2 separate regions of the Homo sapiens genome follow, and region 2 is linked to region 1. The links come from fine-mapping of genetic effects on gene expression. A gene starts in region 1. The other region holds a variant in brackets. All regions are shown on one strand. Distances are between the middles of the regions. Region 1 holds the start of EEIG2 (EEIG family member 2). Region 2 has its middle 27 kb from the start of EEIG2.

Region 1 (15,131 bases):
CTGTCTAGCCTGGGCAACAGAGTAACTGCCTCTAAAAAGAATAATCAGCATCATCATCTAGATGACCCATCCTCCTAACGAGGAATAACATTCCTGACAAATGGATGAGGTCATTCAACTGTTAGTAGTACTGAGGTAGTCTACTCACTATTTTACTCTCCTAAATGTTAGAACTTATTTGTTTTAATGTTATACTGAATAGAAACATGCCTTCTTTAACATCTCCCCACTGGTCCTAGTTCTGTCCTCAGCTGCACCCAGCATAGTCTATTCCTTCTTTATGGCACAATTTTTCAAATATCTTTCATTAGTTGATATGTGACTTTGAACAAATTATTTTCTAAGGATCAACTTTCTCATGTCTAAAAGAGTGGTATGACAGAGGCTAATTATCCTGATATCTGTCCTCTCCTCCCTTTATTCTAATTCAGTGTTTCGTTAGGCATACAGGCACCCAGCAAAAACTAAATTTCTCAACCTTGGGGCTGGATGTGGCATGGTGCTGATGTTCTGGTCAATGGACTGTGAGCACAAGGGACCTTCCCTTCCCCTCTCCTCCTTCCCAGTGGCTGGAATTCGGATGTGGGGTGAGCCAAGTCAGTCCCTGTGGATGAGAACAATACCCTGAGAGCAATAAGACAAAAAGAGTCCAGGCCCCTGACAACTGGACAGAGCACAGCTACCACACTAGGTTGGACTTCATATGAAAGAGAAGTAAACTTCTATCTTGGTTAAGCCAGTTATTTTTTAAAAATACCTTGTTATAGCACCTGACATCCATTCTAAATCAAAAACAGGTGACAATGGTTTCCTACTTCTATTAAAGGGGTTTTGTAAGAATCAAATAAAATTAGGAATGTAAAATATACATATATACAAGTCAATTTTTTAGTATTTGAAGACCATTATCTTCTCTCAAGACTAACCCCAGTCTCCTGTTATTAGCATAATTCAAGATTCTTAAGAATCCGAATATCTTCCTTGGACCTCCATTTGATAACCCTCAAAGGCCTGCACCCCAAACCGAACATAATTTTTTACAAGCTGTGTAGATAAAACATGATCTACTTCCCCATATATTTAATTTAGTGATCTCTGTATGTGTGTCATCTTTAGCAAAACTACAACAGATCTTTTCTCCCAATATTTGCTTTCTTTCAATATTTACAAAATGCTGGCTATGTAAGGCTCAGTGATACAGTGGTGAATATTAACTTACTGGTGTAAAATGGCATTAATACTATTTTTATAAGATATGACTATCCAATAATGTGACTAAATTTTGTGAACTTAGTTGTACAAAGCCACATCTTGAAAAAAAAAGTGGCATGAGTACCATTTTTCTTTTCTTTTGTTTTCTTTTCTTTTTTTTTGAGACAGAGTCCTGCTCCATCACCCATGCTGGAGTGCAGTGGTGTAATCATGGCTCATTGCAGCTTCAATCTCCCAAGCTCAAGAGATTCTCCCACCTCAGTCTCCCTGAGTAGCTGGGAACACAGGTGCATGCCACGAAACCCAGCTAATTTTTAAATTTTCTTCAAAGACAGGGTCTCACTATGTTGCCCAGGCTGTTCTTGAATTTCTGGGCTCAAGCCACCCTCCTGCTTCAGTCTTCCAAAGTGCTGGGATTACAGGCATGAGCCCATAAAAATGCCTCGCTGCATTTTACTTATCTTTCATATACAATTGCCTCAGGGAAAATCTAAAGGGGCCAGGTCTTGTAACCTGTTTAGTGATGTCACATATTGGAACCAGTTTTCTGAAACTGACATTCAGAAAAAGTTATACTACATATATTTACCTACCATTTTTATAAAACATAAAAATGAGAAAGCATACAACACAAAGCCTGAAAGGCAGTAGAATTTAGTGATTAACAGTGGTCCTTGGAGCTAGAATGCCTCCTAGCTCTACCACTTACTAGCTGAGTAACTTTTAGCATCTCTTTGTGCTTCTGTTTCCCCAGGTATAAAATGAGAGTAATAGCAGCAATAATGGCAAGGGCACTAATAATGGTAATGACGTAATAATAGCACCTTCCTCACGGGAATATCTTGAAGATTAAATGTAAAGGCTTAGAAAAGTTCCTGACGCACTGGGAAAGTGCTCAAATAAATGTCAGCTACTATTATTACAGGTATTATAATAATGTGAATTGATGACTCCATTTCTGGTCAGGGTATAAGGAATTTTTTAATTAAAAAATTTTTTATTTTAATTACTTAACTATATTAAAATATAGTTGACAAAAATTGTATATACTTACTGTGTACTATGTAATGTTTTGATATGTGTATATATTGTGAAATTGCTAAACCAAGCCAATTAACATAGCCATCAACTCACATATTTATTTTTTTTGCTGTTGGAGAACACTTATGATCTATTCTCTTAGCAATTTTCAAGTATAATACATTATTATTAACTATAGTCAGCATTCTGTACAACAGATCTGAACATATCCATGCCACCTAATTGAAACTTTGTGCCCTATGACCAACAGTTCCCCATCTCTCCGTGCCCTCACCCACTATGAGTTCACCTTTTTTATATCCCACATATATGTGAGATGATGCAGTATTTGCCTTTCTGTGCCTGGCTTATTTCATTTTAAACAAAAGTCCTCCAGGTTCATCCATGTTGTCACAAATGACAGGATTTCCTTTTTTTTTTTTAAAAGGCCGAATAATTTCCATTGTATATACCACATCTTCTTTATCCATTCATCTGTTTACAGACACTTAGGTTGTTTCAATAACTTGGCTATTGTAAATAATGCTGCAAAGACAATAAGAGTACAGAATTCTCTTCAACATACTGATTTCAATTCCTTCGAATGTATACCCAGAAGTGGGGTTGCTGGATCTAGTGTATAAATAATTCTGTGCCATATGGTCAGACAGTACTTTCTACTACTAGTAACTTTTGATAATTTGCTGCTTATTAGTGATTACTAATCTTAAAAAATCAATTTAATGCACTGAAGGGCAAGTTGGTAATATATATCAAAACCCTTAAAAATCTGCATGCCCTGTGACTCTATAATTCCATTTCTAAGTGTTAATCCTAAATAAATAATAATGGATGTATACCAAGCTTGGTTATAAGGATGTTTATTGTAGTTTATTTATAAAACTATTAACAAAAAAGAAAGGAAAGGAGAAAGCCTTTCAAAAGTGACTTGGTTCAATAAGTCATGGAAACTCATACAATAGAATAATATGCACCATTAAAATAATCTTGTAATTGAATATTTAATGATATGAAAAGATACATGAAGTAAAAAACCATACTAAGTATAGTATAATCTCATTTTGGCTTAAAAAGGGTATGTGATAGTTGTGTGGGGGAGTGTGGTCATACATGTATGTGTACAGATCAATAAAGGCTCCTAATTTCTATACTAAAATATTTATAATAGTGATTATCCCTGGGTGGTTCATTTATGGGCAATTTTTGTTCCTTTCTTTCTGCCTTTCTATTTTCTAAGTTGTCCATATGAATCTGTATTACTTTTTCAATAAAGAAATGTTTACTAAAAAGAAATACACAATGTGCAGTGAACTAAAATCTTGAAAACAGAAGGATGTACTCTGGCCAAAAGAAAGAAATCCTTTCCGCTTGTTTAGAGTAAAAGGTCCAATACATAGATGTGCTCATCAGCTTCCCAGACACTCCCCAAATTCACATGTGTTTCTGCCACAGCCTCATGTGAAACTTAGAAAACTATTTGGCTATCAGCACAAAAAAAAAGATGAACAAAATAAGGCAAACTAGGGAATTCTAAAAGATATAGAAAAAATTTCTTCCTATTATTCCTTTGTTTAAGTAGGCCAGAATTAAACCTGCCATGCCAGTTTTAATAAACCTTAAAAGTGATTTAAATGCTTTTGCAAAGGAAGTACGGTGAAAAGATTTAAATACAATAATACTGTCCTTTTGAAACATCTTCAGAAATACAGTCATGTACTGCATGAGGACATTTTGGTCAACAACAGACCAAATACACGATGTGGTCAGAGCAACAGGCTATACGACATAGTCTAAGCACGTAGTAGGCTATACCATCTAGGTTTGTGTAAGTACACTCTATGACTTTTGCACAATGATGAAATCGCCTAAGGATGCACTCCTCAGAACAGATCCTCATTGTTAACTGATACATGACTGTATTTTATTAGACAACAATTTAGCCTCAGTTGAATAGACCACCATAATCGTACAATGTATTTTCCAAATATTTTATTAACTATGGCATGTAAAAATCTGACAATTTACCCTGACCATTTTAATAATATTTATTACAAATAATTACCTTTTAGTCTTTATATTTTTCCAATCTCTTCATTGAAAACAATACCAAGAAAAACTGGCTTCTAAAATTAATTTTCACTAATAATCTTTATTTTTATTTATTTATTTTTGAGACAGAGTCTTACTCTGTTGCCCAGGCTGGAGTGCAGTGGTGGTGATCTCAGCTCACTGCAACCTCTGCCTCCCGGGTTCAAGCGATCCTCCTACCTCAGCCTCCTGAGTAGCTGGCATTACAGGTGCCCACCACCACATCTAGCTAATTTTTTGGTATGTTTTTTGTAGAAATGGGGTTTTGCCATGTTGCCCAGGCTGGTCTCAAACTCCTGAGCTCAACCAATCCGCGTGTCTCGGCCTCCCAAAGTGCTGGGATTTACAGGCATGAGCCACTATGCCTGGCCTTTTTTCACTAATAATCTTTAAAAGGGTAAAAACAATGTAAGGAAATTCTAAATAAGTTTAGTAAGCAGGCCTATATGGCTCCAATAGACAACATCTAAGAAATCCACATACCGCATAAATGCCTCCCACTACTCATCAGGCTGTCACCTCAAATGTAGCATGCTAAGCATACAACTTAACCCACTATATCTTCCACCACCATATGCAATATTCCCCTTAAACAAAACAAATAATTTTCCTGACTTCTTTACTTCTGTGGTGGCGTCAAGGCATCTGTCATAAGATTATCATTTATCAGTCACTTACATGAGACACCTCGGAGTTCAGGTTCTCATTAGCTCCTGCCTGGGTTATTTTAATAGCCTCCTAATTTGTCTCCCCATCTCTAATTTCCCCCCCACCCAACCTTGAATACAGATAGCATCAGCCTGTCAGCCAGGTGATACGCCACTTTAACCACACAACAACTCAGTTCAAGAATCTTAGGTTTAATTTTACCCTATGAGCAGTAGAAAGCAACTCTCATTTATAGAAAGAGAGTAGAAAGAAACTCTTTACAACAGTATTCAAAGTCTTTCTCTAATCTTATCTTCTGCTTCCATTCAACATGAACGCTCTGCAATCAGGCTGATCTATTATCAACTCCTATTGATGACTTGCTCAAGCTGTCCTCCCATCCTCACTTTGTCAATGCAAACTCATCCTCCCAGAGTGCTCCACAGAAATGCCAATGTGGTTGTCAGTAACCATTACAGTTGTAAATTAACTCTTTTGCTTTAGAATTTCAACAACACTCAATATATTGTCTGATCCATTGATTGGGCACTAAGTCACACTGTCTTCTACTGTCAAGCAATTATACATCTATGATCTAATTTCATTAGAAGTAATTCCCTTGTGGATCCTTATATTTGTTGTACTTCTCACAATCCCAGATGGAGAGCTATTAATAGAAACCTGGTAAATGCTCAACTAATACTTGGCCAAGAATAAATGATCTGCATGTTTAGTTGTTGTACAAAGCCAAATATATTAATATATATATCAAATACATATGACCTATATATATTTGGGTCTCTCTATTTATATCTATATATGCAATTTTCTGTGTGCCTCTAAGGCTTTTCTGTAGCAAGATGAGTATTATTTTATAAAGGTTCATCCATCAGGGAGTCTCCAAGACCAATCCTAAGTTTGGTGATTCATTAGGACTCACAGGACTCAGCATACAGTCCTACTCATGGCTAAGGTTTATTACAATGAAAAGATACAAAGTCGAATCAGCACACACTTAACTTCTCTAGAATTAAATTGTGATGTGCTGTCTACCAGGGAAACTCATTAGAGACTCAATGCCCAAAATTTGTATTAGGGCTGGTCACGTAGGCTGCCTAGCAAGAACCAAAATTCCAGATGGAATTTAGCATAAACCACTCCGTACAGTCTAGGCACAGTGAGCCACTCTTATCATTTACGTAAAGTTTTGTATCATGTATGGAACCATTTACCATTCAAGCTCCCAGATGCCAGCCAAGGGCCAGCCTTGTACATAGGCCTTTCTAAGAATAGCAGTCTTGGGCCTGCTATATTACCTCTTTTCTATGTAATTCATTTCATATTTTTACAGGAGAAATGTTACAGTGTTAACTACACCTGACTTTTAAGGGGCACATACAGCAATTTTTTAGAAGTTAAAATCTAGCGTTCAATTAGAGATGCACTGCCTTGACTGGCACCCACTAATTAAAAGTTCTGTGATTTTGAAATAATTCACTTCCTTTAGATATTTCAGATTTTCTTTTTTTTTTTTCTTGTAAAATGAGGTCTCTTTCTCAAACCAACAATTTTGTAGTTGTTAGGATAAAGGAATCAAATATAACATCTCAAGCAAATGGACCTTCTTGGACAAGTTCCTGGTCTCCTCTTTAAATGCCAACTGGGTGCTAAGGCACTGTTTAGGTGTTTTGGGCACATCATCTCACTAAATCCTCACACCACCACATGTCAGTGATGGTTTCTATTTTACATACAGAAGTTTTGGGACTCTAAGTAACCCATCCAGGTTTACCACAGTGGAACTGGGGTTTAGGCTTAGACTCACCGCATTCCAAATCCTTGCTCTTAGCTTTACACCAACTATCTCTACCTAATGTCAAAGGCACAGGCTCCTTATTGTGAGTCATTTCCCCCATACTATATGGCTTTTTGGTTTGGCTACACAGAGCACTATTCCTAATCTTACTTAAAATCAAATTGATCAAAGTCAAATTTTAATTGGAAGAAAAAGGGGTGAGTTTAACCCAAGATACTCAACTTTTTCATTTCTAAGTCTTGCGGAGTATACCCCTTGCTCATTAAAGTCATTAGGAAGCTCCCTATTCAGAAACTTTCATATATGGCACACGATTTATTCCTTTATCTGGCACCACCCTGTTTGAAGTTACACAGACCTGATCAGAATCTTGGCATCGCACTTACCAGCTGAGGGGACCTTAGGAAAGTTAGTTATGCTTTCTGAGCCTCAGTTTATTTATCTACGAAATGGAACCCCTACCTTATAGACTTGCTATGAGAATTAAATAAGATAATATATTTAGAAGCCAACACATATTTGCTGAATAAATGACTGCCTACAACGAAAGAATAAGTGACTTGTGGGAAGTAAGCCAAATAAACATAACTGAGGTAGGAAGGAAGCCCCGTAGACAAGTGCCCTGACCACCAGGTGTCACCACTGGCCCAGGAGCGCCAGTCTAACTGCCTGGCGTCGGGGGTGGCACCCTGCAGCAAAACAGTCTAGGCCTCAGGGCAAGACTGTCACCTGCACCAACAGGACCTTCACGAATCGGCTTAGGCTTTTCAACAAGTAAGAGATGGTCCAATATTTTTTTTGCACCAAAATAGGTTACATTCTTCTCTTACAGGTGTTTAAAATACTTAGCTGAATATCCACTGATGTGTCACCACAGTTTAATTTTAAAAACTGTCTTCGGCAAACTATTAATTTCATATATCCTTTGGTTTAGCCAACTAGACATTTTCTGGCTTCCATAGGCTTCAATATTGCCCCAAAGACAAGTTTCTAGCCCCAATTCCACAATCCAGTGACATTATTTCCTTTATACTATAAATGGGATGACGGAATTTTTTTTAAGTAGAATATTTTTAGGGCAGAAATAAAGCCTAAGACCAGTATATATGGGCAAAATAACATTAACTTTTAACCCTTCTTGATCTCAGGAACTCAAAAGTTCATTTAAAAAATTGTTTTCTCTCTCTATGTATATATTTTAAAGAAAGCACCTTAGGGTACATCTGTCAACCTGTGAGTAGCTCTGAAATTACTCAAGAAACACTGCCACACCTATTATTAATGCCACACCTATTATTTAATAGCTTCATTCTGTAACCTGCTAATGCCTCTCTCTGGGAGTGCCCAGGGGCTCATTTTAAAATGAGGGCAGGGCCTGGGCTCCCCATCTGGCTCTAAGCCCTCCCACAAGGAGACCTACTAGTGGCCACTTCAAGACTAATTCATCCAGCATTAGCGCCTAACTGGAGACGCCGCTCTCTGATGAGGCACAGACCGTTGTCTCGTCTGCCAGGAGCACTTGACTCAAGTCAAGCCTGGCCAGGCCTACCCCAGCCTCAGAGTGGGTGGCCAAGTCCCCTTGTAATCTACAAGGGAGAAGGAATTGTGCTAAGCACAGGTTTCTGTTCAGAGCTGGGCTCTTGGAACTCCTGCAGTTTGGGTTATTTTAGTTTTTAACAGCTCAAGTTCTACTTTGCATTTCACAAATATGGAAATGTCTTAAGAGAAAACAGAAGCATCCTCCCTCTCTGGCCATTGCTCCCATTCCTAGAGGATTTGGGAGGGAAGAGCAGATACCAGGCACCATCTGGAGTCAGGAGCGCAGGAACCAAGGCCAGCTGAGAAGAACCCATTTGCAAAGCACTTTGCAGATCAATAAATTCGACTGATTTTAGAGCGGTCCCTAGGGAAAGGCGAGCAAATGGGCCAAGGAGAGATGCTGCCCATCCAACAAGCCCTGGCCAAGCAGAAAGGGGCGAGGCGGCGCGGGAGGCGAGTTACCTGGAGGACTCGGCGGTGAAGCTGCCGCCGTCCAGCAGCCGCATCTTGCAGAAGAGGACCCCATTGACGAAGGGCACTGAGGAGAGCTCCTCGAGCTCGAAGTCCACCTTAAACTTAAACTTCTTCTTCTTCATCATCGTGAGAGCCAGGCGCCTGCAAGCTGGGCGCACGGCCGGGCGCCGCCGCCTCAGCTTGGCCGAGCCCCGGATCAGCCCAGCCCCATGGCCGGGGCCGCGAGCTGTGCGCGGGGGCGCGGCCGGGGGGCGCCGCAGGCCGGCCGCGGCCGGGGCCGCTGCCGCCGCCTCTCGCGGCAGCCTGGGCCGGAACGCGGCGGCAGCTGCGGCGCGGACCCCGACCGCCCGCGGGGAGCGGTCGTGCTGCAGCTCGCCCGGGGAGGTGAGCGCCCTTTTGGTGCTCAGCTCGCCGCCGCCGCCGCCGCCGCCTCCGCCGCCGCTGCCGCCCGTCTGGGAGTCGGGAGAGGCGAGGCTCGAGGAACCGCCGCCTCAGCGCCTCGGGGGTCGGGGGCGCCCCCAGCGGCCGCGGCCTGCAGCGCACGGCGGGGCGGAAGCCGGAGGGAGGGCGGGGACTTTGTGGGCGGGCGCGGGCTTGGCCGCGGACTCTAACCCGCGACGGCAGTTAGCACGTCACGCCTTTCTGGGGTTAAAAAAAGACAAACCCGACAGAGAAAGCTTCCTTCTACCGCTTCCTCTCCGCCTTTCTTTTCAGTTTTTGCACCGCCTCCTTTCTCCCCCACCCCCTCCAGTGGTTTCTTTCCTTTGGGTTTGAGAGCCATGGGTTAATAGAGGCAATTAAAATCTCAGCGTTGTTTTGGTCAAATTGAAATCCTAAAACTAAAATTTCCGTTAGGTACTCTAAATTCACGAGCCTTCAAATATAAAAGGAAGATAAGGTAGGAAAAAGGAAAATGATGTGCTGAGGGACTATCAAGGGCCCAGGCACCGTACTGCTGCAGGCGCTTTCTCTGGGGTATAGCTTATCTAGTTCCTGTCACCCAGGACAAAAGATAAAAGAGCAAAGAAGCAGTTAAAATAATACCCTCCCTTTAAAAATTTGTCTGTCTATACTGAGAACTGAAATGCTTAAAATCAAATTCTGCAGGCAGTCTGGCATGGCTACGCTGTAATCCCAGCTACTCGGGAGGCTGAGGAGGGAGGTTAGCCTGAGCCGGGGAAGCGGAGCTTGCAATGATCGGAGATCGCGCCACTGCACTCTAGCCTGGGCAACAGAACAAGCCCCTGTCTTAAAAACAAAACAAAATCTTCAGAGCAGGCTTAAAAAAAAATCTCCCTAGGGGAATAACAATTACCTGCCTTCTGTAATCATGCATGTATTGTTACAATGAATGTTACAAAGTTGGTTACGTGATGTTCATGTTTTTAAACTGAGTTATTGTCATTTTCACTCAGATTCTGCCACAGTAATTCTGAAAGGGTTTAATTGAAAATATTTTCTTTCTCAGTTTACTCGTTTACTCATTCATTCATATAAAAAAATTGCTTAAAATGTCAATCATCGGCTAGACCCCATAACCAAAAGCCAATAACTGCCCTCAAGAATTTTACAATCTAGTGAGGAAGACATGTTTAGACAGGTCATTAAAAAAACACAACCTAGCACCAAGCTATGTAGAACTCAGAGAAGCAATTAATTGAAGTTAATCAGTTTTCTGAATTTCAAAGGATGAAAATGATTTGGGACAAAGTGGGGTAAGTTGTTCTAGGAGAAATAAATTAAAAAAAAAAAAAGATTCAGAGGCAGGTTCGGGGGTGGGGATTTGGTAATGGATAAAGCTTCTTACCCTGCAGGACAGGGGGCAAAGACAGTGAGATGCATTTGGGGACTTTGAGATTTGTCATTTAGAGCACTGGATGAATGTTAATTTCATTGACTGAACATTGAAAGCAAGAGGAGGGCAGGTTGGGAATGGAAGAGATAATGAGTCTTTATGGGATCTGCTTGCAGTACATCTAGGGAGAGAGAGGCAGCCTTAGCTCATAAAAATGCATTGGCAATTGAAAATATACATTTGGGAATTGAGGTAATCGCTGATGGCTGAAGCCCAAAAGGTGGATAAGGATGAGTTACTCTGAAGAATATTTAAAGGGTAGGCAAAGAGGAGATCGTGAAGGTGCCTAAGAACAAGCAGTCAAGAGAAAAAGGAGATGAAGAAAGAGATGGCCTGGAAGCCCAGACGGTTTTAATCATGTAACATTCGTAGTTACAAAGTTCTATTGTGTGCCAGGCACTATGCTGGGTACTAGAGATGCAAATGAATAAGACATAGGGGCTTATAAAGGAATGGAGAAAAACAGAGATATGCAAACAGATCAACTAAAGTGTGTGTGTGTGGTATGTGAGTATGTGTGTGTGAGAGAGAGAAGAGAGAGAGAAAGAAAGAGAGAGAGCAATCTGTGATCCATGTAGGACAGAGGACCATTTCAAGAGAGTGCTGCAGAGCAGTCCCAGAGGATTTGGACTGAAAAGAAGCTACTGAATTGAAGGTCTAGGAGGTCATTGGTAATCTTGGCAAGAGAAGTCATCATAAAAGATAGTGACAAAGTAAGATGAAAAGTGACAAAGTAAGTGAAAAGATGACAGTGAAAAGTAAGATAGTGACAAAGTAATGTGGGTAAATAAAAATTATATTTTTATTGATGTTTTTCTGATTTTTTTGTCAGCGAATGAAAAGAGAGAGAGAATGGTGACCAGAGGAGGACAGTTCAATCTTTTTCAATAACATTCAGGAACTATCCAATATTTATTGAGTGTCTATTAGGTGCCAAGCACCTTAATAGGTCCTATGGATTTGAAATGCCGTCCCTGTCTTAGATCTCACGGTCTACTGGAGGACACAGAGAAGTAAGCAGGCAGTTGCAGTACAATGTAACACTGAGTGCTGTCTGTGTATGATGGTGAGTGGAGACTGCTGTGGGAGACTATAAAAGCTAACAGGGATAAGTAGTAGGTTTATGGAATGCCTTCTAGGGTAAGTGAAGCCTGAATTCAGGCCTTTAAGCTGAGGCCTGAATAATGAGCATGGGTGGGGAGCAGTTTCCAGGAAGGAGGTAGTGTCTGTGCAGAGGCTCAAAGGAAGAGAGACCATGTTGCAGAGGGAACTGAAATTAGTTCTGTCTGGCTGCAACTTAGAGTTGGGTACAGTGACAGGGGTTAACAAAGAGCCATTGAAGTTTTAAAGAAGAAGCATGATATATTCAGATTTACATTTTGTAAAGCTCTTCTACTTTATAAAATGGAAGATAGGAGACAGTCTGTTACTGTTTTTTAGACTCATGGTTTGATTATTAAACCCCTGATAGGAGTCATAGTCAAGGCAGGAAACAGATATCATATTCAATGTGTTTAAATGGGGAAAATTTAATGAAAGGACTCTTCACAGAGTTGACAGGGTAAGGGACCCACAGTCTGGTGAGAAGTTGAAAGGAAGAAGGGATAAATATCCTGATTTCTCTCACCTCCTACTTTCTGATCTCTTGGTGGTGCTTCCCATGATCCAAAACCAACCAAGGCCAGAGGGTAGAGGGGCTCGGAACATGCAGTTCATACAGGACAGACTCCTGGGGCACAAAGTAGGGCACTGAAAGGTAGAGAATGGTTGGAGGTAAGGGGATGGAAAGCCACTAGCACACAAAGGATACAGTCAGGGTTCACCATAGGAAGCTGAAACCACTCTGGATGTTTCAAAAAAAAAAAAAAAAAGGGATTTCATTCAGGCACTTCACTGCTTCTGAAATCTGTGGAAGGGCTGAAGGGGTTGAGGTCAGCAGACTGTCGAATTCAAAGTCACATGCTTTGTGGTAAACATTACTAGTGTTCACTAGTATCCGGTCCTCCTTGATTTCTGAGCATATGGGAGTTTACAGTTCCCAATTCCCTTGCGGTTAGTGGGGCCTTGTGATGAGGTCTAGCCAATAAAATGTGAGAAGTAACACGTCACTTCCAGGATGAAACAGTGAAAAGCCTTTGAGCAGTTCTCTAGACTACCTCTTCCCTGCCACAATAGTTATAGAGGAGACCTTGGGTTAAGATGTAGCAGCCACAAGATTGAAGCAGCCCAGATTTCTTAAGTCAGCACATGGAGAGCAACTGCCCACACCTGCAGGAAACATTTTGTCTGTGAGAAAGCAACTTTTATTATATGAAGCCACTGAGATTTTGGGGGATGCTTGTCACTACAGCATAAGTCTAGTTTATTCTGACTAACATACACTGCAGCTGGGATGGGAAGCTGACACTAGAACACTGCTACTGCTGCTGCCACCACCACTGGCTCACACCTGTCAAGACTATGAGGAGTCTGAATGCCACAGGCATGTCATCACACCTTGCTTGCAAGTGACACAGCAGTAAGAAGAGAGCCTCCATTTCACTTGCACCTGTGTTTTCATAAGGAAATTTATTTGGCAGGCCTTATTTGCACCCAAAAATTGAGTGGCAAAGGAGTCTGAGAAATGTAATTTTCAGCTTTCCAACTTCTTCAGATAGGATGGTGGAATGAATGTTGAGGCTAAGTATCTACTCCAGTACTTATAATTCAAGTTTCTTAAAGGCAGGGATGGTTTGCTGATCATCTTTGTATCTTTTCTAAATAGCCCAGTACCTAGTGGGTATTCAATACATGTTTCTTGAAATGACCTGAATTTATAGACCTATCCTAAGTGTGTTAACTCTCAGGTAAAACAACAGAGTGAATAGACATGTGCTAAGACTGCTTACTGCCAGAGGTGTGACAATTCTTACAGGTTTATTCAATTCCCTTGAAAAGCATTTACTACCCCTTAAAAATGCGTACACTCCCCCTTTACCTCTCCCCTACAAAAAGGATATTTAAGTCTCAACCCTCTGGTCTTTCTTTGAGTCTCATATTCGCAGGACTACTCTGTCCATGTGCACTGATAAATTTGTATGCCTTTTCTCCTGTTAATCTGTCTATTGTCAGTCATTTCAGCAAAGCTTCAGAAGGCAGAGGGGAAGCTTTCCCATCAATCTTATACCTACAATAATTTGGTAAGAAAGTAAGATATCTATGAAACCCATAGTTCTATAAGAGGTTGAAAAATGGAATGTTAGTAGGTTATATTTATGGCTGCATTCAGTAAGATATTGGAAACATAAGATGAACTCATGCAATAATTAGCAGGTTTGCAAGCATAAATTAAAAGGAATATAGAGAGTCCAGAAATTTGGAGCCTCAAGGGATGGGAAAAACTAACTGCTCTATACCTCAAAGAATAGGAAATAAGATTGAAAAAGCTCTTGAGCAACAAGGGCCCATTAAGACTCAGCCGTGAAACAAAGATTATATTTAGGGTGTGGTCTTCACATTTAAGTCTGATGTTCTCAAAGTAGCCTCCTTAAATTGAGAGGAAGAGAGGAGTGAAGAAGCAAAGAGATAATCAGGATTGAGAATTATCTCTAGGAAACCTCAGTGTTTCTGGCATATGGAACTGACTGGAAGCAAAAAGATCAAATACTTTTCAGTTTTTGAACTACTGTATTGCTAAAGAAATCATGAGCCTGCGTTAAAAGTTGTACTCTCCTCAAGAAAGTCACGTTCCTCGACACTCATTTTAAATGTGGGCTTAGAGGAAAAATTTCCAGAGGGCAGAGCCAGGGACCACAGAGGACAACAGATAAGCAGATTCCTCACAGATAATGGAAACAGGGTGTAGCTGAGAAACAGCTCCCACTGCCAGCTCAGAGCCATCACAATGCCTCCCTGCAAAATTTCATTTTTGTGATGGGCCAGGGTCCCACTTTTCCCCCTTTCCTACCTGGAAGTATTTACTATATTTGTTCTATCATTATACATTGTGTGTGAGTGAGGGAAGATATTTTATTAGTTCATAAGCCACAGCTCTAATTGAAATGTTAGACTGGACAATTCTTTACAGTGGGGCTGTCCTGTATATTGTACGAGGTTTAGCAGCCTCCCTGGCCCCTACCCATCAGTTGCCAGTATCATCCCCCTCACTCCCAGTTGTGTTAATCAAAAATGTCTTCAGACATTGCCTAATATCTCCTGGGGGACAAAATCATTCTTAGTTGAGAATAACTGGGTTACAGGACGATGTGGAATTATATTCAGATCTGACTGAGAATTCTGTGCATTACATGGAAATCCTGCACTTTGAACTTGATGCAGTGACTGGGTGGATTTTAGGTTATCTCATTTGGTGACAATAATGAGTGTATTATTTATTTGGGAAGAAGAGTGAAATGGCTTTTTTTTGGTATCAGATGGATGGACTATGGCATAGATGACTAGGTCATGACCAAACCTGTT
Region 2 (15,131 bases), 29 kb after region 1:
GATTTCATATTGTTGAAACACACATGCTGTACAATTTGTGTAGTTAATGCAATTATTACAGGGTCCTGAGGCGACATACATTCTTCTCAGCTGACAGGATTAAGAGATTAAAGTAAAGACAGGCATAGGAAATCACAAGGGTATTGACTGGGGAAGTGATAAATGTCCATGAAATCTTTACAATTTGTGTTTAGAGATTGCAGTAAAGAGAGGCATAAGAAATTATAAAAGTATTAATTTGGGGAACTAATAAATGTCCATGAAATCTTCACAATCCACATTCTTCTGCCATGGCTTCAGCCAGTCCCTCAGTTTGGGGTCCCTGACTTCCCACAACAATAATCCATTAATCAATTTGTTTATTTAACAAATACGTATTGAGTTCCCACTCATTGGTAATGACTCTTCTATGCACTGAAGAAACAGCAATGGACAAGGCAAACAAAATTCCTGCATTCATGAAGCTTCCATTCTGGCAAGTGAGCAAATACGTAATATCAAATAGTAATAACTTCAAAGAAAAAAATAAAATAGAGTAAGAGTATGGGCAGGGACAGTGGGAGGATGCAAGGTGCTATTTTTGATAGATTGGACAAGCCTTCTTAAGGATGTCTGAATGAAGTGCAGGACAAAGCCATAAGTAGATGGTAGAACCGAGTTCCAAGCAGGGGAATAGCAAATACAAAGGCCCTGAGGCAGGAATGAGCTTGCTTCTTTCAAGGAACAATAAGAAGATTTGAGAAGCGTGTGCATTGGAAAGTGTGGTAGAAAATGAAGTCAGAGCAGCCAAGAAGGAGGAGGCCATGAAAAAATGTTTGAATTTTTTTGAGTGTATCAGAAAGCTGTACAAAGGTTTCAAACAGGGAAGTGGCATTATCTGATTTGAATTTTGAAAAGTTCATGCACCCTAGATGTTGTGTGAAGAACTCATTATATGGACATCAGCTATCACTGGATGAGATATGATGGTGGCTTAGATTCATCTGCTCACATGTGGAAGACTGTGGGAGGAGGTTTTTGGAGAGAAGTAAAGAGTTCTGTTGTGTACATGTTAAACTTGAGAAATTTTTAGACAGCCAAGTAGAGACTTTGAGGAGGCAGTTGAATATAGAAATCCAGAACTTCACTGGAATTAATAGCTCTGGAGATAAAAATGTGGAAGTTGTCAATGGCTAGATGTATGAAAAGGCTGGGACCAAATGTGATCATCTGGAGGTGAATATAAATAGAAAAAAGAGCCCACTATTCCTATCAAACTACTAACTTCATTTTTCACAGAAATAGAAAAGACTATTCTAAAATTTGTATGGAACCAAAAAAGCTCACATAGCCAAAGCATCCTAAGCAAAAAGAACAAAGTCAGAGACATCACATTACCTGACTTCAAACTGTACTGCAAGGCTATGGTAACCAAAAAAAGCATGATGCTGGTACAAAAATAGAAAATCACCAATGGAAGGAACAGAATAGAGAACCCAAAAATAAAGCCACACATCTACCGCTAGTAAGCAGTGGGAAAAGGACTCTATTCAATAAATGGTGTCTGGATAACTGGCTGTCCATATGCAGAAGAGTGAATCTGGACCCCTATCTCTTACCATATACAAAGATTAACTCAAGATGGATTAAAGACTTAAATGTAAGACCTGAAACTATAACAGAAGAAAGCCTAGGAAATATCCTTCTCAACATCAGCCTTGGCAAAGAATTTATGACTAAGTCCTCAAAAGCAATTGCAATAAAAGCTAAAATTGACAAGTGGGACCTAATTAAACTGAGGAGCTTCTGAATAGCAAGAGAAACTATCAATGGAGTAAATAGATGACCTAGAGAATGGCAGGAAATATTTGCAAGCTATGTATCTGACAAAAGTCTAATATGCAGAATCTATAAGGAACTTAAATCAACAAGCAAAAAACAAATAACCCTATTAAAAATGGGCAAAGGACATGAAAAGACACTTCTTAAAAAAAGATATACAAGCAGCCAACGAACATGAAAAAATGCTCATCACTAATCATCAGAGAAATGCAAATCAAATCCACAATGAGATACCATCTCACACTTGTCAGAATGGGTTTTGTTAAAATGCCAAAAAATAACAGATGTTGGTGGGGCTGTGGAGAAAAGGAAATGCTTACACATTGTTGCTGGGAATGCAAATTTGTTCAGCCTCTGGGGAGAGCAGTTTGGAGATTTCTCAAAGAAATAAGAATTGAACTACTATTCAACCAAGCAATGACATTACTGAGTTTATACCCAAAGGAAAATAAATCATTCTACTAAAAAGACACATGCACCTGTATGTTCATTGCAGCACTATTCACAATAGCAAAGACATGGACCCCGCCCAGGTGCCCATCAACAGTGGATTGGATAAAGAAAATGTGGTATTAATGCTTATATACCATGGATTACTGTACAGCCATAAAAAAGAATGAAACCATGTTCTTTGCAGCAACATGGATGCAGCTGAAGTAATGAAGAAACAGAAAATCAAATAACACATGTTCTCACTTATAAGTGGGAGCTAAACATGGGGTACACATGGACATAAGGAGGAGAACAATAGACACTTGGAAATACAAGAGTGGGAAGGAAGGGGGGCAAAGGTTGAAAAAATACCTATTGGGTTCTATGCTCACTTCCTGGGTGGTGGGTTTAATCATACTCCAAACCCCAGCATCATGCAATATGCCTTTCTAACAAACCTGCATGTGTACCCTGGAATCTAAAATAAAAATTGAAAAACAAAAGAAAGAAAAGAGAGCCCAGGATGCAATGAAATATATTTAATATTCTGTGAATATTCTTCTTCTTCTTCTTCCCATCACAAATAATAGCCATTGATGATCATTGTCTAGATTCATGAATTCATTAGGGTTTAATATAGTGGTAATCTAATTCTGTCATTCTTTCTTCAATTTACTTGCTGGAATACTTCTATAAGAGAAAATTCAATGACTTAACCTAATAAAAATTTGTTTTTTGCTCAAGCAATAGTCCAGTGAGGCTGCTGCTGATATCTTGACTATACTGGACTCTCTCCTCTAAGCACTAACTCAGATCACTTTCCTCTTGTGATTGTATGCTTTTCTGGGTCTTTGAAATCTTCTCTATTAAGGCGGTGAATGGAAAAAAAGAATAGGGGATCAGATGTGGCAAGATTTTACAGGCCAGGCCTGGAAGTGTGTTCTTTTTCTACCTACATTCCATTGACTACAACAGTCATATGGCTGTACCTAACTGCAAGGGAGGCTGGGATATGTAGTTCAACTGTATGTCCAGTAGGAAAACAGAAATAATTTAGTAAATCATTAACCAGTTTCTGGCCATATGGCCATAAACTTGAAAATACACAATCACGCTCTCTCCCTCCTCTCCCTCCTCTCCCTCCTCTCCCTCTCCCTCTCCCTCTCCCTCTCCCTCTCCCGTCTCCCTCCTCTCCCTCCTCTCCCTCCTCTCCCTCCTCTCCCTCCTCTCCCTCTCTTTCCACGGTCTCCCTCTGATGCAGAGCTGAAGCTGGACTGTACTGCTGCCATCTCCGCTCACTGCAACCCCCCTGCCTGGTTCTCCTGCCTCAGCCTGCCGAGTGCCTGCGACTGCAGGCGCGCGCCACCACGCCTGACTGGTTTTCGTATTTTTTTGGTGGAGACGGGGTTTCGCTGTGTTGGCCGGGCTGGTCTCCAGCTCCTAACCACAAGTGATCCGCCAGCCTCGGCTTCCCGAGGTGCCAGGATTGCAGACAGAGTGTCGTTCACTCAGTGCTCAATGGTGCCCAGGCTGGAGTGCAGTGGCGTGATCTTGGCTCACTACAACCTCCACCTCCCAGCCGCCTGCCTTGGCCTCCCAAAGTGCCGAGATTGCAGCCTCTGCCCGGCCGCCACCCTATCTGGGAAGTGAGGAGCGTCTCTGCCTGGCCACCATCCCATCTAGGAAGTGAGGAGCGTCTCTGCCTGGCCGCCCATCGTCTGAGATGTGGGGAGCGCCTCTGCCCTGCTGCCCCGTCTGGGATGTGAGGAGCGTCTCTGCCAGGCCGCCCCGTCTGAGAAGTGAGGAGCCCCTCCGCCCGGCAGCCACCCCGTCTGGGAAGTGAGGAGCGTCTCCGCCTGGCAGCCACCCTGTCCGGGAGGGAGGTGGGGGTCAGCCCCCGCCCGGCCAGCCGCCCCGTCAGGGAGAGAGGTGGGGGGGTCAGCCACCCGCCCGGCCAGCCGCCCCGTCCGGGAGGTGAGGGGTGCTTCTGCCCGGCCGCCCCTACTGGGAAGTGAGGAGCCCCTCTGCCCGGCTGCCACCCCGGCTGGGAGGTGTACCCAACAGCTCATTGAGAACGGGCCAGGATGACAATGGCGGTTTTGTAGAATAGAAAGGGGGGAAAAGTGGGGAAAAGATTGAGAAATTGGATGGTTGTCGTGTCTGTGTAGAAAGAGGTAGACATGGGAGACTTTTCCTTTTGTGCTGTACTAAGAAAAATTCTTCTTCCTTGGGATCCTGTTGATCTGTGACCTTGCCCCCAACCCTGTGCTCTCTGAAACATGTGCTGTGTCCACTCAGGGTTAAATGGATTAAGGGCGGTGCAAGATGTGCTTTGTTAAACAGATGCTTGAAGGCAGCATGCTCGTTAAAAGTCATCACCACTCCCTAATCTCAAGTACCCAGGGACACAAACACTGCGGAAGGCCGCAGGGTCCTCTGCCTAGGAAAACCAGAGACCTCTGTTCACATGTTTATCTGCTGACCTTCCCTCCACTATTGTCCTGTGACCCTGCCAAATCCCCCTCTGCGAGAAACACCCAAGAATGATCAATTAAAAAAAAAAAAAGAAAAAAAAAAAGAAAATACACAATCACACATTTACAATTTGTGGTAAATGCTGTAAAGTTAAATAATATATATGAATGAGAATAGTTGGCTGGGGGCAGAGAGCTATAATACTTCAGGAAAATCCTTTGCTATGAGATAATATTTAAGCTGAGACCTAACAAATGAGGACAAGAGTGGTAGGAGGAAGAATCTCCTAGGCATGTATGAAGGTCCTGAGGTAGGAAAGAGCTTAGAGAATCCAAGGACCTGCAAGAAGACCAATGCAGCTGAACCTGAAAAGAGAGTTATGAAACAAGGCTAGACAGGTAGGCAAGGCCCATATCATGCAGTGCTCCATAGAATGTGGTAAAGAGTTAGCGTTTAATCGCAATAGCAGTGGAAGGACATAGTATGATTAGTGTTTTTTAGTATTTAATGCTAATAGCGATGGAAAGGCATGATGTGGTATTTCTAACAGAGTGTTAAAATGGGACTCTTCCTGATTCACTGCAGCTGAGGGCCTAATTACCCCCACATTTCAAAGTGCAGTGAGTGAGATCATCTATGGCAGAATTATGAAAGAGGTGCTGAAACCACTTCTGTGGATCTTCACCCCTCTGCCTATCTTAAGGCTATATAGGAACTAAAATTGAAAAGGCCAAGGAGATAGTTGAGTTTTGGAAATTCCCATTGAAAGAATCTCCAATGCATCATGTCTTCCCTACAACCCCATGAGAGATTGGTAGGACAGGTATTTTTACCTTGCCTCAGGTGTGCTAGTGAGGGGTGCTCCAAGGAGACCACATGGAAGGTTTGACCTGTAGCCTCTGGAGTCCATGGGTCACAGAAATACCTGGTAAATAGCTTACTGTCATCAAAGTAAGGAACTGCATTTGGAAAGTTAACTAGTATTGACAGTTTGCATTGGCAGCTCCAAGGTATGAAATCCTTGGGAGGAATATATACGTGCGGTCATTTAAAAGGGGATCATGCTTAAGAGAACTTCTGTCCACACCAGACAACCTTAGCAGACAGAGGCTGGAGACGTGTCTTCAGATTCAGAAGCTGAACGTGGGGCTGGAGTGGGTATGTAAGCATCCAGCTAAGGTCGAGGCTTTGCCTATTTCAATGAGCTCCAATCAGCGGAACTTACAGAGGACTATCTAGGGTGAGGAGATCGAGACCATCCTGGCTAACACGGTGAAACCCCGTCTCTACTAAAAAATACAAAAAAATTAGCCGGGCGTGGTGACGGGCGCCTGTAGTCCCAGCTACTCGGGAGGCTGAGGCAGGAGAATGGCGTGAACCCAGGAGGCGGAGCTTGCGGTGAGCTGATGCGCCACCGCACTCCAGCCTGGGCGACAAAGCGAGACTCCGTTTCAAAAAAAAAAAAAAAAAAAAAAAAAGTCCTGAGAGTAAGAGTCAGCTTTAAACACCTGCCACGGCCAGAGTCTGTCAATGGTAGATTACGCCTGTGTCTGTCACACAAGATCTTTTCTGTTTCTTATCTCTCTTTCCTGGCCCCTCCAACCTTGGCTGGCTGAAGCGGCTGAGACAATGAAGAGGAGGAGGCCAGGAGAGAGGAGCCAGCCCCACCACAAAGGCCGCCAGCCCTAGCAGGTTTGGGGTTTGGGTGGGTGGTGGGGAGGAAGCATTAACTGTAATGAAATTCAGTGTTTCAACCAACACGCTGAACTGGGCATTTTTATTATTGAAATGAGACCATTTTGCGACTGAAAGAGAGAATTCGTATTAACTGACAGCACCAAAAAAAAGTCAAGGGACTTGCCCCAGGC[G/A]CCAGGAAAGAACCTGTCCTGCAGAGCCGGTTTGATCAGGCTGTTGGGAAGAAAAGAATAAAGTTGTTTTCTGTTCTCACTTCAAGGTTTCTGGTTCTGTATAAAAGTTACTTGTTTAAACAATCACACTGGTTGCTGTGTGGAAATCAGACCGGAGGATGGCAGGTGTGAGTGCAAAGGGTCAGTGAGGAGGGGACAGCTGGCTCCTCCACTTCCTAGCTGTGTGATATTGGGAAAGTCAGTTAACTTCTCTGTGCATCAGTTTCTTCATCTTCAAGTGGTGCTAGAATGCTTTATAGGGTTATTGAGAAGAATAAATCAGCTAATGCATTTAAAGCACTTAGAGGGGTACCTGACCCATAGTAAGGATTATAAGGTGTTTGCTACTATTTTTATTTAAAAAATTCTGATTGTAGCAGCCCCAATGTAAGACAGTGTTGACTTGGACTACCTTTAACCAGAGAGCGTGAAAAAGCTCATGATGTATTTTAGAATGATATTCAACAGGGCTTTGTGGGGGATGATTGGATATGGAGACTGAGGCAGAGGGAGAGGACAAGAATCGCTCCCAGGGTTCTGGTTTGGACATCTGGTTGGAATTGAGATGACTGAGTTTGAGCAGGACAAGAATGGTATACAAGCTTAATAGAGATTCCTGGTTACTGATGCTTCAAAAAGTATGCATTTTATTTTATTTTTTAGAGACAGGGTCTCACTGTTGTCTGGGCTGGAGTGCAGTGATGCAATCATAGTTCACTGCAGCCTTGAGCTCTTTGGCTCAAGTGATCCTGCCACTTCAGCCTCTAGAGTAGCTGCGACTACCGGTGTGTGCACATGTCCGGCTAATTTTTGCATTTTTTTAATTGTAGAGATGGGTTCTCACTATGTTGCCCAGGCTGGTCTTGAACTTCTGGCCTCAAGCCATCCTCCTGCCTTGGCCTCCCAAAGTGTTGGAATTACGGGCATGAGCCACTGTGCCTGGCCAGAAAACTGTGATTTAATAGCATTGAAAGCTCTGAGCATCACGGGAGTGATTTTTCTGAAGTGTAAAGGCTCTAAAACAAAGTACTTGTTTTGCTAGGTCACCTTCCGATCCTTTGTCCCACTCTTTTAGATAATGGTGCAGGGGGAGTCTGGGTAATTATATAATAATATGGTTTTCGTTTTGAGAACCAAGAATGACCTCAACAGGCAATCAGTCCTTGCATAATAAACACTGTTAGAAAATAAATGGCATAATATTAACAGTTCTAAAACTAAAGTTACTGTCTTTGACAGATGTCTTCTAAAATTGTTATATGTCTAATAAACTTAGTAAAAAATATATTTATCCAGTGGGGACTGCAATATAGTGACAGGCCTTTTTTTTCAAAAGCACACACATAAATGCATGGATAAAATTTTAGTGCTTATGTTTTAAATACCTTGAATGGCTTGTCACCTTACCTTTGCTATTGGAAGTTGATCTTTGAAACTAAGGTAACAGCCTGATTCCCATCCTAAAGATATGCTGTGGAGATATAGAAACACTGTCCTTTGGTATTAATTTTCTATTTTCTTCCCTACCCTCCTGGGATACAGTGTTGAGAATCAAAATTTCTCTTTCTCCTGAGGTCTTGCCAAAAGCTGTCTTTATTACCCCCTCCTGCCTTGCTAGGGGTTGTGGAAGAGCATTTATGTTAGATGCTAGGGCTGACCAATGAACAAGTGGCTGAGGGCCTTTTTTATTCTCAGTCTTTAAATTTTGTAGAAACTATAAAAGTGACTCGAGTAACTCTTTGTAGACTTGCATATCCCCTCATCAGAACTTTCCTTTTAGTTGTCTTTCTTGACAGCACTCCACTAGGAGAGGCTGGGTCCTTCAGGGCTCTGTGAGTGGGAAGAGCAGGGTGTTCTCTGAGACCTTGGTGTCCATGGTCACACCATCCACCTGGCCTAGGGCCTCATCTGGCTTAATGACTACAGTATTCTTGATGTAGCAAGTATTCTTTTAGGTAAAAATAATAAATCTCCTGCAGTTTAGTGACAGATGTTTGGTTTGGCATGTTACTCTCGCTTTTGGCAAACTCATACGGTGGCGAAGCCAATCCACATGATCCAGAAGGGAGAAAATAAGATCAAATGTTAAAATGCTATACTAATCCCCTAGCAGATAACGGATGGGAGAGGAGGCCTTGGCTTTCAAACAGTGACTATCTTAGATAATAGAGGAAAAATTTGAAATCCATACAGGTACATATCAGGAAGTTAAAGTACCTAAAACCAAATGTTTAATGTTGTTATATCTCCTTTTATTTTTACAGCCATAGTGATCAGCTTGTAACATCCACTTTGAAAATTTCCAAGGCCAACATCATCTCAGTCATGAAGTATGGTACTTTGGGGAATCTATTGGATATTTGTTTATGTACTAGAGTGAACCTGGAACTGCTTATTCCTTTGCTTCCTTAAAAATGTATTTTCTAAAGTCAGCTGATTAGCAAAAAAAAGAAATAAAATTTATTGTCTTTTAATTTTCATCAAAGTAATTGTATACATAGTAAAAATAAGGTAGTGCTGAGGAGTTTATACTGAAAAACAACAGCTGTCTGCCACACTTCCCAGTCCCACTTTCCAGAGGAAAACCGCCTCCCTTTTTTGATAAAAAAAATTACATATTTTTGAGACGGGTTTTACTCTGTTGCCTAGGCTGGAGTGCAGTAGTGTGACCATGGCTCACTATAGCCTTGACCTTCCAAGCTCAGTGGATCCTTCCACCTCGGCCCCTTGGGTAGCTGGGACTACAGGCATGTGCCCCCGTGCCTGGCTAATTTTTTCATTTTTTGTAGAGACAGGGTCTCACTATGTTGCCCAGGCTGGTCTCGAACTCCTGGGCTCAAGCGATCCTCCCACTTCTGCCTCCCAAAGTGCTGGGATTATAGGTATGAGCCACCGTGCCTGACCAAGATTAAAATTTTTAATCACTGATTTTTATCCCTTTATTCCTTTAAACTGCCTCCTGCAAAGTTACAACTGAAAGTAATTTGGTGTGTATCTTTCAAGACTTTATTTCTATGTATTGTACTTATTCTCTATAATAAAAACAAGGATTTAGCTACCCTCTCCCAGTTTTTGATAGCTATTATTATAGTTTTATTCTTGGTTGCTTTTATACCTTTAAATAAAACACTTAAACCTCTAGTTTTTGTCCCATCAGCCATATATAATACCTCTTGACTCCCAGGCTATATTTATATAATCATGATTATTTATTGGATACTTAGTATGGCGACAGGCACTGTTCTAAGTGCTCAGTGAACAAAACAGAGCTCTCAGGCTCATTGGCACTTACATGGTAGTTGGGGGTAGGGGTGTTCAGATACAGAAATTATATAGTAGACATTGATGGGGTGTTCAGATACAGAAATTATATAGTAGACATTGATACATTCAAAATTAAAAAAAGTAAGACAGGAAAAGATAGTTCAGGAATCTGGAAAGTGGGAATAATGATTTTAAATCGGATGGTCAGATTTAACTTCATTGAGAGATGATGTTTGAGCAGACATAAAGGCAGGGAGGATGTTATTCATGTAAGCATTTTAGGGAAGAGAGTTCCAGGCAGAGGCAACAGCAAAGGCTGCAAGGAAGGAGTGTGCCTGGCACATTCAAGGATTACAGGTGGCTAGTAGGGCTAGAATGGAGTGAGCAAAGGGCAGCGTGGTGGAGGATGAGGTCAGAGAGATAACAGGGTGAGATGATATAGGGCTATGTGGATCAATATAAAGAATTTTTGCTTTTACGTTGGGTACAATGAGAAGCCATTGCAAGGTTTTGAGCAGAGTGACACGGTCTGACTTGTGGATATGTATAGCTTCCATGTTGAGAACTGTAGGAAGGCATAGGGGGAGGCAGGGGAGTAGTCGGGAGGCTTTTACAGTCGTCAAGACAGAGATGCTGGTAGTGCTGACCAGGAGATACTCGTGGAGTTGGTGAGAAGAGGTCACATTCTGGAGATATGCTGATGAGACTATTGGCCCTTTTCTCCTTTCTTCCACCTTCTACCCTTCCACCTACCATAATATTCTGTCAAGAATATTATTATTATTTTTTTCTCCTGAAACAGGGTCTTGCTCTGTTACCCAGGCTGGAGTGCAGTGGCGTGATCTTGGCTTACTGCAACCTCCACCTTCTGGGCTCAAGCAATCCTCCTGCCTCAGCTTCCCAAATAGCTGGGACTATAGGCAAGTTCCATCATGCCAGGCTAATTTTTGTATTTTTTGTAGAGATGAGATTTCACCATGTTTCCCAGGCTGGTCTTGAACTCCTGAGTTCAAATGATCCACCCACCCTGGCCTCCCAAAGTGTTGGCATTCCAGGCGTGAGCCATCGGGTCTGGCCTAGACTTTTGTTTTTATGTTTTCAGAGTTAATGCCAAATTCTTTCTTTATTGTAACCCATCTTTTATAAACTGTTGCTTACAGTTTGATTCTGGGAGTTAAATATCAACATAACCCCCCAATTTATGTTATTATGACTATTTAATTAATATTCATTGCATAGGCAAATAATATGCAAAAATTACATTTCCTTTTCTATAGGTCCAAGACCATGACCTCTGGGCTCTTTGAAGAAGGATATTTTAGAGTCTAAATTAAATAAATTCTCTTTCATAGTTACAGAAATTGCTGAAAATTGTGCTACATTTTAGCTGGCTTCATATTTGTATCTTGACTTTTCTATATAATTCTTGTCGTTTTTTTTTTTCCTGGAATTTCCAATTATCTTTCTTTTATCTTGCTGAGAGAAGAAACATATGTTTTCTTCACCATGTCACTGATATCATCTATTTTCATGGTCATTCTATGTTTTGTGTAAACTACATTTCATTTTTCTTCCTGAAGATAGTATTAATGTTATACTTGGGACCCACTGACTCCCTCTCCTGATTTAGATTGTTTTGTAAACCCTATGCACAGCTGTCACTCTGAAATGATTTTTCATTATACTCCTGAGTGAGTTCTACTCTTTCTTGTATTCCATATCTTCCTCTGTTGGTTTGCACTTCACTTCTCTGGAATATCTCCAAAAGTATCTTCGTCAGAAAAAACAGACGGGAGATGAAATTTCTGAGTAATTGAAAATCTGAAAATGTCTTTAGTATGCCTTCACATTGATTTATAGTTAGGTGGAGTACAACATTCTATATTCAAACATTTTTTCCCTTCAGAACTGTGAAGGAATTGTTCTGCTGTCTTTAGCATGGAGTATTACTAATAAGCTTGGGCCGGGCACGGTGGCTCAAGCCTGTAATCCCAGCACTTTGGAAGACTGAGGTGAAAGGATCGCTTGAGCCCAGGAGTTCATGACCAGCCTGGGCAACATGGCAAAATCCTGTCTTTACAAAAAATGCCAAAACTTAGCTGGGTGTTGTGGCTCATGCTTGTAGTCCCAGCTACGCAGGAGGCTAAGGTGAGCAAGACTGTGTCTTGGAGGAAAAAACGAAAAGAAGCAGCAGCTTGATGCTGGTGTATTATTGTTCCTTGGTAGGTGATCTTTTTTCTCTTCCTCTCTAGAGTCTTCCCATGTTCATTGCAACACTATTCCCAATAGCCTAGATGTGGAAACAATCTACATGTCCATTGATAGATAAATGGATCAAGAAACTTTGCTATATACATAAAATGGAATATTATTCAGTCATAAAAAAGGAAATCCAGTCATTTGTGACAACATGGATGAATCTGGAGGACATTACGCTAAGTGAAATAAGCTAGTTGTTCATTTCTATGGCAGAGAGTAGAATGGTGGCTGCCAGGGGCTGAGGGAGGGGAAATAGAGAGGGCTGCCCAGTGGATATAAAGCTTCAGTTATGCAAGATGATTAAGTTCTAGAGATCTGCTGTATAGCATTGTGTTTACAGTTAATAGTACTGTAAACTTAAATTTTTTTCAGAAGGTAGGTCTTATGTGTTCTTACCACAGTAAAGAAATTAATTAACTTAAAAATCTCTTAATATTTAATCTTCCAGAATTTCATAATGTGATGTCTAGTTGATCTTTTTTCATTCATTTTGCCTAGTACTCATTTACACCCTTCACTAGGAATAGTTACATCTTTCTTTAACTCTCGATGAGACATATATACATATATATATATATAGAGAGAGAGAGTGTGTGTGTGTGTGTGTGTACTCACATACATACTAAAGCTTTAAAAGATATTTCATTCCTTGTTTTTTTTCTTTTTGGAACTTCTATTTGCTGGATATAGGATCTTCTGGATTTATTCTGTTTCGTCTTTCTTCTGACATTTCCTCTCTTTTCATCTTTTGCTTTATGTTCCAGGAGAGGGTCTAGGCTGTCTTTCAACCCTTCGATTTTTAAAATGTCAGCAATTATATGCTTAATTTCCCAGAACTCTTTCTTCTTTTGGATTTTTATTTTGGTTTGTGTGTGTGAAGTCAGGGCAGGGTGTAGGAGTATCCAGTCGTAGTTTCATGGAAGCAGTGTCTTTTCAAATGTCTCTGAGAACAGTAATTAAAAATGTAATTTTTTCTATTCCATAGATAATCTCTGCTCTTTTCTTAGGATGAATACTGTTTATCTTGGTCTTTCTTTTTTATGTTGCTTGTTTTCTTTCTTGTGATCTTTAGTTGTCCATCATATTTTAGAATGAGACTTCTAAGTAGCTTTTAGGAGTTTCTTACTCTGATGTATATAAGTCTGTTTTCCCATGGAATATCTGCCAGTAGTTGGGAGCTCTGTGTACCTGGGCGGTGGGCTGGGGCGGGGGCGGGGGGGTGCAGATAATTGATTGTGGTAATGCTGGTTATATAAATTTCAATGGCTTTACATAATAGATGTTTGTTTGTCATCTGTATTGTGGTCCAATGCCTGATTGGCAGGTGGCTTCTTGCATGTGGTGATTCAGAGACCCAGACTCTTTCCCCTGGCACCACTAGCATCTCCGCAGGCCTTGGTGCCTTCTGCCTCTGGCTGGCAGAAGAGTAAATAAGAAAGTGCAAAGGCACACCTACTTTCTTAAAAGCCCTGGCCTGGAAGTGATACACATCACTTCTACTTATATCCCATGTAGTTAAATGACTACATTGGAATGCAAGCGAGGCTGGAAAATATAGTCCCTGGCCTGGAAGTCACCTACCAGAAGAGGCATCACAGTAAGGAATGAGGAACACAAATTTTTGTCACTCATTTCTAGTCATTCCTTTTGAAAATAGACTTATCCACTAGTCATGTTCATTTTAGGGTTAGAATGCTGGAGACTTTTAGTTTTTGCGGGGAGGAATGGGGTTACAAAATGCAAGAATAGAGAGAGCTTTACTTGGGGCACTGGCATCCATTTTCACCATTTCTGATTCTTCTCAGCCAGTTTACTCAATTTTTCAAGAAAAGAAACTTTTTTTTTTTTTTTTTTTTTTTTTTTTTTTTTTTTTTACGGCCAGGATTTCATACTAGTTGGTATTCTGTGTATTTAGGAGTGGGAGACGAGGGTTGGGAGTGTAGGTACATGTCTGGTGTAGACTGTGCACTAGGCAGGCTTTCAGTTAACCCTTCTATTTTACCTCTCCTCTGCCCCTGCCCTCTGAGGCACCTGCCAGCTCAGCCCTGGGCTTCTGTGGGTTTCTGCCGTAGAGACAGACTCACTCTGGCATTAAAATCCCTTCCTGCACATTCTGGGCTGCTGATTCTCTCTTATCTAGCCTTAGGCTTCCAGTCTCTTTCTGTCTTCCATTGTTTTAAACTCTCATCCACTGGTGACCCTCTTACTGTTCTGTTTACTGTTCTGAGTTAACCTCTATGTTATCATTAGGTCTCAGAAAGTAGAGAAGAAAAAGCTTTGTGCTGGGTCTACTGTATTGGACTTGAAGTCCCCAGAACCTTTTCTTGAGGAAATCCCAAGTTTCCCTGCAGGAACCATTCAGGTATTTGTCTAGAGTTCTATTTTGACAAGCTAGTGACTTCGTTTTTCTTCTGTAGAGGGAGGATCTCACTATATTGCCCAGGCTGCATTTATATTTCATTGTCTTAGAAATGTAACTTTTCTAAACAATTCTAAAATTCATATGGAACCAAAAAAGAGCCCACATAGCAAAAACATCCTAAGCAAAAAGAACAAAGCCAGAGACATCACATTACCTGACTTCAAACTATACTACTAGGCTATAGTAACCAAAACAACATGATACTGGTGCAAATATAGACATAGATGAATGGAACAGAATAGATAACCCAGAAATAAAGCCATATAGCTACAACCATCTGATCTTGAACAAAGTTGACAGAAATAAACAATGGAGAAAGAACTCCCTATTCAATAAATGGTGCTGGGAAAACTGACTAACCACATGAAGAAGAATCAAACTGTACCCTTATCTCTCACTATATACAAAATTGTATATATCTCTTACTATATACAAAAAAAGATGGATTAAAGGCTTAAAAGTAAGACCTGAAACTACAAAAATCCTAGCAGAAAACTTAGGAAAAACTCTTCTGGATATTGGCCTAGGCAAATAATTTATGATTAAGAACT

Evidence for each region. PIP is the estimated chance that this variant, and not a neighbour inherited with it, causes the effect.
Region 2: its variant is fine-mapped to the expression of EEIG2 in nasal epithelium (TOPMed, PIP above 0.99).

Annotation. Positions count from the first base shown.
Region 1 is chr1:108,554,241-108,569,371 of GRCh38, reverse strand. It overlaps EEIG2 (EEIG family member 2), which reads right to left and starts at 9,272. Exons shown (of 11, transcript NM_001010883.3): 1 at 8,807-9,272. The coding sequence starts at 8,943. RefSeq lists silencers at 332-547, 9,072-9,611 and enhancers at 8,069-8,118, 8,582-8,681.
Region 2 is chr1:108,525,170-108,540,300 of GRCh38, reverse strand. No RefSeq gene overlaps it. Among named protein-coding and RNA genes, the nearest start is that of EEIG2, 27 kb to the left of the region's middle. RefSeq lists an enhancer at 3,140-3,434 and a cis regulatory region at 6,101-6,676. The variant G/A (reference allele first, on the strand shown) is at 6,597.